2 separate regions of the Homo sapiens genome follow, and region 1 is linked to region 2. The links come from fine-mapping of genetic effects on gene expression. A gene starts in region 2. The other region holds a variant in brackets. All regions are shown on one strand. Distances are between the middles of the regions.

Region 1 (5,381 bases), 71 kb after region 2:
GTTATGTCAAGGCACAGGTGTTTTCGGGAGGGAGGTATGTCACTCTAGGCCAGTGACACAAAGCCAGATAGTTCACTTGAGGTGGAGTGGAGATGTGTCTATACTTCTCCCATTCACCTGTGTCCTTGTTTCTATGCAAAACAACACAGGACATTTGTCTTCCAGTTTCTGAGTTTGCTCAGTTCTATGACTGAGGGTGGTTTTTAAATCCATCTCCCCTGGGAGTCTGATGGTCTTGCCATTACATGCAGCTGCTTCTGGTTCCTATGGAAATCACCTTTGGATCAGAAGGTGTACTGTTACCTGAAGCTGCATCTTAAATCATTAAAATAAATTTTGGTCAATACTTTAATAGAAGAAAGTTATTTATTGCATTGATTTAGTAGAAAATTCCTCGTATAGGACTTTAGTCACCTGAACACCATACCTCACTAAATTCAAAACCACTGCAAGTAATGAGTGAGAGACTGCTGTGGTGAAGGAACGAAGGCACATTTCTCTCCCTGCACTCCAAATATCCTATACCCTTTCTAGCTTTTGAGTTGACATTGATACATCTTTCCTTTCTTTTTACAGGCAAAAGATAATTTCTAAGAATGAAGAAATTTGTGAAGGATGTTCTGGGAGATTGGCCTCTATTACTGTTTCTAAGGATGATTCTGACACTGTGCAAGATGGTAGCAAGAAAGGACAAGAATCATAAACAAAAAGTTGCTCTGCATTGTTGAAGATGGTTGGCACACCATTTCTGTAGGCCCAGGAAACTCCTGGGAGGGTTTTCTTGAGAAAATGCATATAATGAGTTTAGTTCTTGGGTTGCTCTGACTCTCTGAATGTCTGAAAATGTTTGAATTCGCATCTGAATTTCACAGCTTATCACGGACTCTTCACTGAAAAATGATGCTCTCCATACTGGGAGCTGAGCTTTCTCTGAGTTTTGTACTATTTTTCTTCTACCTTGACGTATTTCGTTAGAAAGAAACTGATTTGAAGGCCTTCTTCATATTGAACTTTTACTATATTTGGGAGGTGTACCTTTGTCCCCTGGGGCATTTAGGTAGCAAAAAAAGATGATGTGTTGATTTTACTCTAAAATATTTTTCTCTCACACCCATGCCCCCTACTTCCCTACCTCTCAATCATGTTCCCTAACCTATGACTTAGGAAGGGTTTCTGATGATTCTTACCACCTCCTCTGGACCATCACCAGAATTCAGACACCCACAGTGCAGGCAACATAAATAAGTGAAGTGGGCTAGACATAAGGAAAACAATTGCCCAAGCACAGTGATAAGTGGCAACCAACAGCAGCCTCAGTAGAGGGGCTTGGGCAGGGCTGGGGCACAGCGGATGGGGAAGAGTGACCCACAGAGCACTGTCCCATCTGAAGAAGGTGCTTCTCAGACCTTTGCCATGCAAAAGCATGAGGTCAATATTGTCAGATAGTATGATTTTTTAAAAGAAGTTATTCTGGTTTTTATGTGATATCTCCTAATTTTTAAACATTGACAACAAATTTTAAAAATACAACTGTGTGTGCCGATCATGGGAGACTCAAGTAGAACATGTCTGTAGTCCAGATGTTTTCCACCTGTGAGATGTCATTGGCAGAAACCAAAACCAAACACAAAAAATCTCCAAGGAGCAATAAGATCAAATTATATTTTATTCTATTAAAAAATGTTTTTGAAAAAAGATACTTAAATTTTAAAGATAACTTAATTCCTAATGATTTAAAATAATCCAAGCAGAGATGAAAGAGCAAATGCAAATGCATAAAAAGACCCCAGAGCATTGTTAGCAAAAAGCAAATATAGTTAGCCAAGCATATATATATCATAAAAGCAATAAGAAGGCATAAAGCAAGTTTGGGGAGAGCTTATTTAAAACTTGTAAAAATCATTTGAATTTTTAAAAGATTTCAAACAAATTTTGTTTTATTAAAAAAAAAATTTTTTTTGAGACGGGGTCTTGTTCTGTCACCCAAGCTTGAGTGCAGCGGTGTGAACATGGCTCACTGCAGCCTTGACCTCTTGGGTTCAAGCAATCCTCCCACCTCAACCTCCCAAAGTGCTGGGATTATAGACATGAGCCACCATACGTGGCTACTTTCTAATTTTTTTAATGTGGTAGTGTGGAATTTAGCTTTGAAAGAGAATTAAAGTTAATAGAATATTAACAGTGGGCTTATAGTTGATAGATAACAATCTGAATCATAAGCCCTCTATATTCATAGCTGGATTTTGTACGTGTCTGGTATTTATTGCCACCAGCTAAAAACATTCCCAAAGCCTTAAGCATAAGAGAAAGGAGACAGTGTTATTGTTGTTAATATCCTATTTAACTTTAGCTCTTATAAAAAAGTGCAAAACAATTAATAAAGTAGAAAATCTAGAAAATTAGTAAATAAACATAGTGTTATATCTAAATAGTACCATCGGCCAGGCGCGGTGGCTCACGCCTGTAATCCCAGCACTTTGGGAGGCCGAGGTGGGTGGATCACGAGGTCAGGAGATCAAGACCACCCTGGCTAACACAGTGAAACCCTGTCTCTACTAAAAATATTTTTAAAAAATTAGCCAGGTGTGGTGGCGGGCCCCTGTAGTCCCAGCTACTCGGGAGGCTGAGGCAGGAGAATGGC[C/G]TGAACCCGGGAGGCGGAGCTTGCGGTGAGCCGAGATCACGCCACTGCACTCCAGCCTGGGCGACAGAGCGAGATTCTGTCTCAAAAAAACAAAACAAAACAAAACAAACAAAATAGCACCATCAATCAGAAGGGAAGACAAGTTTTTTTCTTAGTGTGAAAGTAGGCTGAGGCATCTGTTTCCCCATGTTTTTCTTGTCATCCTTGTTGCTTACTTCATAGTTCACTTCAGTCAGGATGGTGAGAATATCATCGCCTCTGAAATACATCACATAATATTGTGACTGTCTGTGGGGGAAAGCAACTGATGAACTGTCTCCTCTGCTGTGCTCAGAGATAGTTCTGTAGTTCTTTCTCTCAAAATATCAGTCATTTGAAACAATAAGGTGCGAAACCAAGACCTACCCCAGCTTTCCTGGTAAATGGGTTGTCTCAGAGCTTAATAACTTACTTTTGGTTTATTCAGGAACTCTTTTGACCATCAGAAACCTCGGTGTCAGTATTAGAGTTGGTTTCTTTCTCTCCTGACCTGTGTGTCTCTCACTCTTCTCCACGTTACTTGGCTCCCCATTGCTTCAATGCCCCCCAATACTCTCTGCCTCGAATTGACATCGCATCTGCGGATTCATCTTTGATGCAATTAAACTTAAGGCAAGTGAAAGTATAACGTCTCCTGCAGCTACTCCCACCTTCTTCTCACCAGGATCTCTTAGCATTTTTGTTAGGCAACCTCTTCTTCTACCTTGGTAGCTAGCCGCGGAAACCTTGCAGGATTCATGATCTAAGTTACGAAATCTAAGTTAGATTCATGATCTAAGTTACGGGAAATTCTCACTCTTCATATACTCAAAACATGAAATACAGGGCTAGAAGGAACCTGCTATTTATCTCCCATAATGCACCAAGAGGTTTTGAGGATGGTTTGCTATTATAGAACTTTTGACAGAGTTGGAGGATGTTTAAACATTGAATTGGGTTACTGCCTTCTTGGAAGATTTCCAAAACTAGTTGAATTGGCTCAGTCATGTTTTGGCCTAAAGACAGAGAGCTGGAGTATATGACTTTCCTATCCTTTCCTGCTCTGTGATACCCTGATTGTCCTTTGAGGTGCTGAATAAAGGAATAAAGCATCTCAGCTTTTCCATCTATAAACTAAGGATGTTAACACTTGCCACTCTCCCACTTTGTAACTGACCTGGGAAATGCAGCTATGTGATCTACAGCTAGACATTTAGAGTTGAACGGAAACCACTCCCCTTGGACAGTTCTCTGACCTGTTAATGTGATCTAAATCACATAGCACTTTCTAATAGGCTCTGAATATGAGTAGATAGTAGTGTGATGGAGTAGGGGGGGAAGGTAGTGTAACAGTGAGGAGGGCTGAGTAGGCAAAACTTACCGAGGACATCGCTCTCTCAGGCTCTGGCAAAGTGACTGGATGTACCAGGTTCCCTCTGCAGGGTTTCGGTAGGAAACACAGTTATTCACAGTGGCCATCCCCAGCAGAAAGTCAGCCTCATCCGGGATATATCTCGTTTGAGGTGATGATAAATCCATTTCTAAATAGGGTTGCTCCTCTGAATCAGTCTCAACAGGTATACCTTTCTGGTAGTTATCCCCCTGACAAGCCTGAATAAAAAACACTTTGGGTTTTCCAGCAAGGGAAGGGCACTTCAAACCAGTGAACTGAGATGTCAGCTCATAGATGGGGGCCTCCTGTCCATCAGTGCCATAGATGATGCCCTTGTCTCCATGGGAGAGGATACAGCAGATGAAGCAGTCCATGTTACTGTGGTCCATGAGTTGGTAGATTTTCAAAATCTCATAGATTTGCTCTACTGTGCAGTCATCGTGGGGCTTGATCTCAAAATGAAGCTCTTCAAAGGTCGTGGTCAAAGCCCCTGAAAAGTGAAATTTGAACAGTCACGTTATACCACAGTAATTCACAGACCACAGCTGGAGAGCACAGTGGGCATAACATTGATAGATAAGAATTTGACCCCTCTCCCTCTCCCTCTCCCCGTCTCCCTCTCCCTCTCCCTCTCCCCGTCTCCCTCTCCCTCTCATGCCGAGCCAAAGCTGGACGGTACTGCTGCCATCTCGGCTCACTGCAACCTCCCTGCCTGATTCTCCTGCCTCAGCCTGCCGAGTGCCTGCGATTGCAGGCGCGCGCCGCCACGCCTGACTGGTTTTCGTTTTTTTTTTGGTGGAGATGGGGTTTCGCTGTGTTGGCCGGGCTGGTCTCCAGCTCCTAACCGCGAGTGATCCGCCAGCCTCGGCCTCCCGAGGTGCCGGGATTGCAGATGGAGTCTCGTTCACTCAGTGCTCAATGGTGCCCAGGCTGGAGTGCAGTGGCGTGATCTCGGCTTGCTACAACCACCTCCCAGCCGCCTGCCTTGGCCTCCCAAAGAGCCGAGATTGCAGCCTCTGCCCGGCCGCCACGCCGTCTGGGAAGTGAGGAGCGTCTCTGCTTGGCCACCCATCGTCTGGGATATGAGGAGCCCCTCTGCCTGGCTGCCCAGTGTGGAAAGTGAGGAGCGTCTCTGCCCGGCCGCCATCCCATCTAGGAAGCGAGAAGCGCCTCTTCCCCGCCGCCATCCCATCTAGGAAGTGAGGAGCGTCTCTGCCCGGCCGCCCATCGTCTGAGATGTGGGGAGCACCTCTGCCCCACCGCCCTGTCTGGGATGTGAGGAGCGCCTCTGCTGGGCCGCAACCCTGTCTGGGAGGTGAGGAGTGTCTC
Region 2 (5,381 bases):
AAAGATCAAAGAGAGTTGAGCAAGTGAGCAAGTTGGAGATAATTACAAGCTTCTTAAGAGAACACTGTCTTTTCCACACTGGGAGTGTTCTCATAGAGCCACAAATAGCGCTCCACAGATGGAAAGCCTCCGAATGCTCCCAGCTGACCATGTTTGCCACTTCGTGAATGCTGCAGCATCACACAAGAGGATATCTATTTCCCCAAGCCCTGTGCAGACCAATTTTGATAATATTGCTGTCAGAATTAAGTTGCAGTTTCTCTCATTCATTTTTCAACTTATACTTTGTTTTACTATTGGTGGCCTCCTCCACCTCTGTTCCAAATAGTAAGACACTTTGCTTTAGGCGAAGTTACTGAGAATGCCAGCACTTCCCCAATTTCATCCAAGAGAAGAGCACTTAACACTTAGCCCCTAAACACCTTCATTTCCTTCTCCTCAGCTGTTTTGGAACTGGCGAAGCTTTACTCATGTCCAAAAAGATGAAAGGAGAATGGGGATACCCAAGTAGTAGTAATTAGTGCTGAGCCTTTGCCAAGTCGAGTGGCTGGGGTATTCCTTCAGCACTTACTTCCTCTGTATCTCTGTTTTTAGCCATGCTTCACTCAAGACCCAAATCCTGCTGCTTTTTTTTTTTAATCATAAGAAAGGATTTAAATATAAAATTTTACACATTAAACACACTCAAAGTAAATATTCAATCTCTGGATGGAGACAGATTGTCTAGATGACTAATAGAGTCTATCAATTCTTCTCTAAGTTATTTCCCTCCTTTTAATCTTTGAAAGTCTCTCTTCATCTAGCCTGTTCATGGTGCTCAGAGTTGAAGCAGCCATAGTGCAACCAAGACGCTTCCCTCCATCAACACACCGAGGCTGGCATAACAGAGAGATGGAAAGAGCCCAGTTCTCCAAGGACATTGCTGAATCTTTGCACCAACTCTGATAGCACTGCCTCCAGACTCTATTTCATGAGGTTAATAAACCTCTTTGATGTAAGCCACTTGCAATCAAGCAACAGGTCTATGCATTTTAACTACACATGGCCCACACTGAGAAATCTTGTCGTAAATACTGGTGTCCTCAGAGCTCTGTTCTAGACCCTCTTCTCTCCTTACACAATACTCTCTCTATATGTGATCTCACTCGCTCCCTTGGCTTGGAATAGTATCCACTCTGAAGACTCCTAAATCTGCTTCTAGGCCAGAATCTTCCTCTGAACTTCTAAAATATGTAAGAAACTCTAACAGACGTCACCACTTGTCTATTAGTCTCCCTGCACCTCAACATATCCAAAACTGAACTAATAATCTGCTCCCTAGAACCTGTTTATCCCTCCACACTTTCCTATCTCAATAAATGGCACCACGGTCAACTCAATTGCTCGAGCTGGAAAGCCAGGAATCATCACCTTCTCCTTTTCGCTCATCCCAGCATCCAGTCAATCACCAAGTTCTATCATGTCTTCTCTCCATCCCCACTGCTGCTCCTCAGTCAGGGCCATCGTCAGGTCCCATGACGACCACTGCCACAGACTTTTACCTGGTTTTCCTGGCCCTTCCAATTGCTTCCCTATATTGCAGTCAGAATGATCTTTCTGATATGTAGATCTAGTCAGATCTCTTCTCTGTTTAACACTGCTGCCTGACTCACTGGACTAGAAGAGTAACTCCTGCTATGAACTCCCACTGCTTCTGGCAAGTCTCAATATGAGTCATTGTGGCTGCATGGTGACTTACACCTGTAATCCCAGCACTTTGGGAGGCCGAAGCAGGAGGATCACTTGAATTCAGGAGTACAAGACCAGCCTGGACAACATAGCAAGGCCTCATGTATACTAAAAGTCAAAAAAATTAGCTGGGCGGCCGGGCGCAGTGGCTCACGCCTGTAATCCCAGCACTTTGGGAGGCCGAGGCGGGCGGATCACGAGGTCAGGAGATCGAGACCATCCCGGCTAAAACGGTGAAACCCCGTCTCTACTAAAAATACAAAAAAATTAGCCGGGCGTAGTGGCGGGCGCCTGTAGTCCCAGCTACTTGGGAGGCTGAGGCAGGAGAATGGCGTGAACCCGGGAGGCGGAGCTTGCAGTGAGCCGAGATCCCGCCACTGCACTCCAGCCTGGGTGACAGAGCGAGACTCCGTCTCAAAAAAAAAAAAAAAAAAAAAAATTAGCTGGGCATGGTGCTGTGCACCTGTGTAGTCCCATCTACTTGGGAGTCTGAGGCAGAAGGATCGCTTGAGTCCAGGAGGTCAAGGCTGCAGTGAGCTATGCATGCAGCCTGCACTGCCACTGCCACTGCACCGCAGCCTGGGTAACAGAGTGAGCTACTGTCTCAAAGGAAAAAAAAATTAATTATGCTTTTATTGAGCTTTTTTATTGTCTGTTTTCTCATTGGTCTCTAAGTTGTATTGAGTATAAGAACTGAGGTATATCCCCACACCTAGCAATAGTGCCTGGCACACAGTAGACAACAAATGTGAAGTTGAGTGAATAGATGAATTTATAACAATATTTTGTAAGCTAGGGGTTGTGACCCACCAGGATCATGAAATCAATCTAGTGGATTATAATCAGCTTTAATTTAAAGAAGAAAAAGAAATAGAAGAGAATAGCAAATAATAAGAGTATTATTTCATGAAATTTTTTTATTACAAAATTTGTAAAATGTATTTCTTATAATGAGTGGCAGTAAAACTAAAATGAAAGCCACTGGGTTGTAATAAGCAAGTACTTTTTTCTATAGTAAGAAAAAGCAGCTTTATTTAAAAAAAAAAATCGGAAAACCTTGTGACTGCAAAAGATTCCTGCCTTGGGGGATTTTTACTTTCACAGATTTCAAAGCCTTAAACTCGAGGGAAAAAAGTGTCTAGAGTTTTAGGTTTCTGTGAGTAGATCACAGAGGAATTAAAAATCCATCACAGATCCTGCCTGGTAACTATTGCCATAGACCAATGAAGCCTAAAAGTGCTGTTGAATTCTATTTCCTCTGAAGATATATCTTAAACTTTTTTGTCCCATGACTGATGACGAAAGTGGAAATCCAGTGTTAAAAGTATGAATTCTTTGCTGTTGAGGGTGGTCACTGATTTGTGTCTTGGAGAATTTAATTGGCTGTTTCTCCCAACCTTCTCTCTTGAAGAAAAGAGCCCTGAGCCAATGAGGAGCTACTGTTCTGTGTCCATAGCAACAAAATAAACAAACTTTGGCCTGCCATCTCCCAAGGGCAAACCTCACAACTCAGGCCCAAGTCACAGGAATCTGAATGGTGGGGTGACCTTCTCCTCTAGTTTAATTTCATTGCAATACTGAGAAACTTCAACTGTTTTGTCTTTAGAAGGGAAATTCATGTTTGTGCCAGGCCAGCCTTTGTAAAAGCCTTTGATTGGATTCACTAGAAGTCTGTCTTCCCGCAGTACATATACTGTGAATTTTCTCCTTCGGCATTTCAACCACTTGGAATGGCCACTAAAGTGGCTTTTGATCTAAAGTAAACTCTGATTCTGTGTTGATGGGGAACCATTTCTCTCTAACATGGTGGTTTCTTTAAGATGTTTGACTTGGGCCACATGAGAATAACAGATCTTTGGGCAGTCCAAGGTAAGCTCTTTGGAAAAGATGTTTTATATTATTTTTTCTACTGATTATTAATACTAACCAGTAACTTCTCTGAAGCCTCTGCCGGCTCACTGGTGACTATTGTTAGGGCAAGCCTCAGGTAAAATCATCAGGTAGAAGTGCAGGAAAGGGAAAAAAGGGGGAGAAAAAATCCTTACACACACTCACACACCCCTCTATAATTAGAGCTATATGATGTCAAGCCACTGTAAATGCAGATCTATCTGTGATGACATGGAAATATCAACTAGATATCCTGTTACACAAAAAGAACAAGATGCAACATTGTGTGCAAAGTATGCTCTCACTTATGCAAATAATTTAAAAAATCTATTATGCTTCTCTACAGGTTAAGTTCTATATGCAAAACATTTAAGGTTATATGCACTCACAACATTTCTGGAAGGATGCCCCAAAAATCTGTTAGAAGTAGTTCCCACTTAAGAAGCTATGAGAAGTCAAGGGCTGATTTTAGCTACTGAAATATTAAAATACTGCCATATAGGCAGGGCACGGTAGCTCACACCTGTAATCCCAGCACTTTGGGAGGCTGAGATGGGTGGATCACCTGAAGTCAGGAGTTTGAGACCAGCCTGGCCAATATGGTGAAACCCCATCGTTATAAAAATACAAAAATTAGCCAGGCATGGTGGCGGGTGCCTGTAATTCCAGCTACTGGGGAAGCTGAGGCAGGAGAATCGCTTGAACCTCGGAGGTAGAGGTTGCAGTGAGCCAAGACCACACCATTGCACTCCAGCCTAGGCAACAAGAGCAAAACTCCGTCTCAAAACAATAATAATAATAAATAAAATACTGTCATATTGATTGGTAGATGACCATTGTCCAAGCCCCTTGCATGTCCTCCTTGCCACCTTGGTTGTCCCAACTCCTCCCCTGGCACCCCCAGACCACCTCATGATTCAGCAACTAAGGGGTTAATGCCTGGCATGGAGGTGGGAGTGAGATCTCCCAGGACCCTGTTCCAACCCTGGTTGATTATTCAATAGCCTTGTCTTACTGGTTGTTAAATATTTTGAGTATCACTCCCATGGGTGTTCAAAGAAAAAGGCCTTTATTTTTATTTTATTTATTTATTTATTTTTTAGAGACAGGGTCTTGTGCTGTCACCCAGGCTGAAATGCAGTGGTGTGGTCCTAGCTCACTGCAACTTCAAACTCCTGGCCTCAAGTGATCCTCCCGCACCACCTGCCAAGTGGCTGGGACTACAGGCACACTCCACCATACTAGGCTATTTTTAAAATTTTTTGTAGATACAGAGTCTCGATATGTTTCCCAGGCTGGTCTCAAACTCCTAGCCTCAAGCGACTCTCCCACCTCAGTCTCTCAAAGTGTTGGGATTACAGACATGTGCCACCACACCTGTGAGGCCTTCTTTTTTTTTTTTCTTAAGAGCAAAAGAATATATACCAAGACATTGTTTATCATGGGAAAGAGGAAAAGGAAACAACTACACATTCATCAAAGATCATTGAAAATCTATGTAAAACTCCACTGAGTGATTGTATCACCCATACAATTTACCTCTGCTTTCTGGCTTTTGAATGCAAATGTTTAATGTTATTTATAATATGGTAATGACGATTACAACATTTTGGCAGTTTCATCTGTGAATCTCTTTTCTCTTTGTTTTTGTTTTTTGTTTTATTCATTTATTTATTGAGACAGAGTCTTGTTCTGTCATCCAGGCTGGAGTGCAGTGGTGAGATCTCGGCTCACTGCAACCTCCACCTCCCAGGTTCAAGTGA

Which allele goes with the higher level. Positions count from the first base shown, and alleles are read on the strand shown. Sizes are in standard deviations (SD) of each study's normalised expression.
For the expression in testis of the gene that starts at base 3,234 in region 2, allele G in region 1 goes with a lower level than allele C (moderate effect, 0.42 SD a copy in GTEx).

Evidence for each region. PIP is the estimated chance that this variant, and not a neighbour inherited with it, causes the effect. A credible set is the group of variants that fine-mapping cannot tell apart.
Region 1: its variant is the best candidate, but not a certain one, in a credible set for the expression of FLACC1 in testis (GTEx, PIP 0.57).

Annotation. Positions count from the first base shown.
Region 1 is chr2:201,283,977-201,289,357 of GRCh38, reverse strand. It overlaps CASP8 (caspase 8), which reads right to left. Exons shown (of 9, transcript NM_001372051.1): 8 at 4,041-4,542; 9 at 1,649-2,899. The coding sequence ends at 2,764. It overlaps FLACC1 (flagellum associated containing coiled-coil domains 1), which reads left to right. Exons shown (of 15, transcript NM_001127391.3): 15 at 577-1,087. The coding sequence ends at 703. Among named protein-coding and RNA genes, the nearest start is that of CASP8, 26 kb to the right of the region's middle. RefSeq lists a cis regulatory region at 856 and an enhancer at 784-928. The variant C/G (reference allele first, on the strand shown) is at 2,642.
Region 2 is chr2:201,355,198-201,360,578 of GRCh38, reverse strand. It overlaps FLACC1 (flagellum associated containing coiled-coil domains 1), which reads left to right and starts at 3,234. Exons shown (of 15, transcript NM_001127391.3): 1 at 3,234-3,597.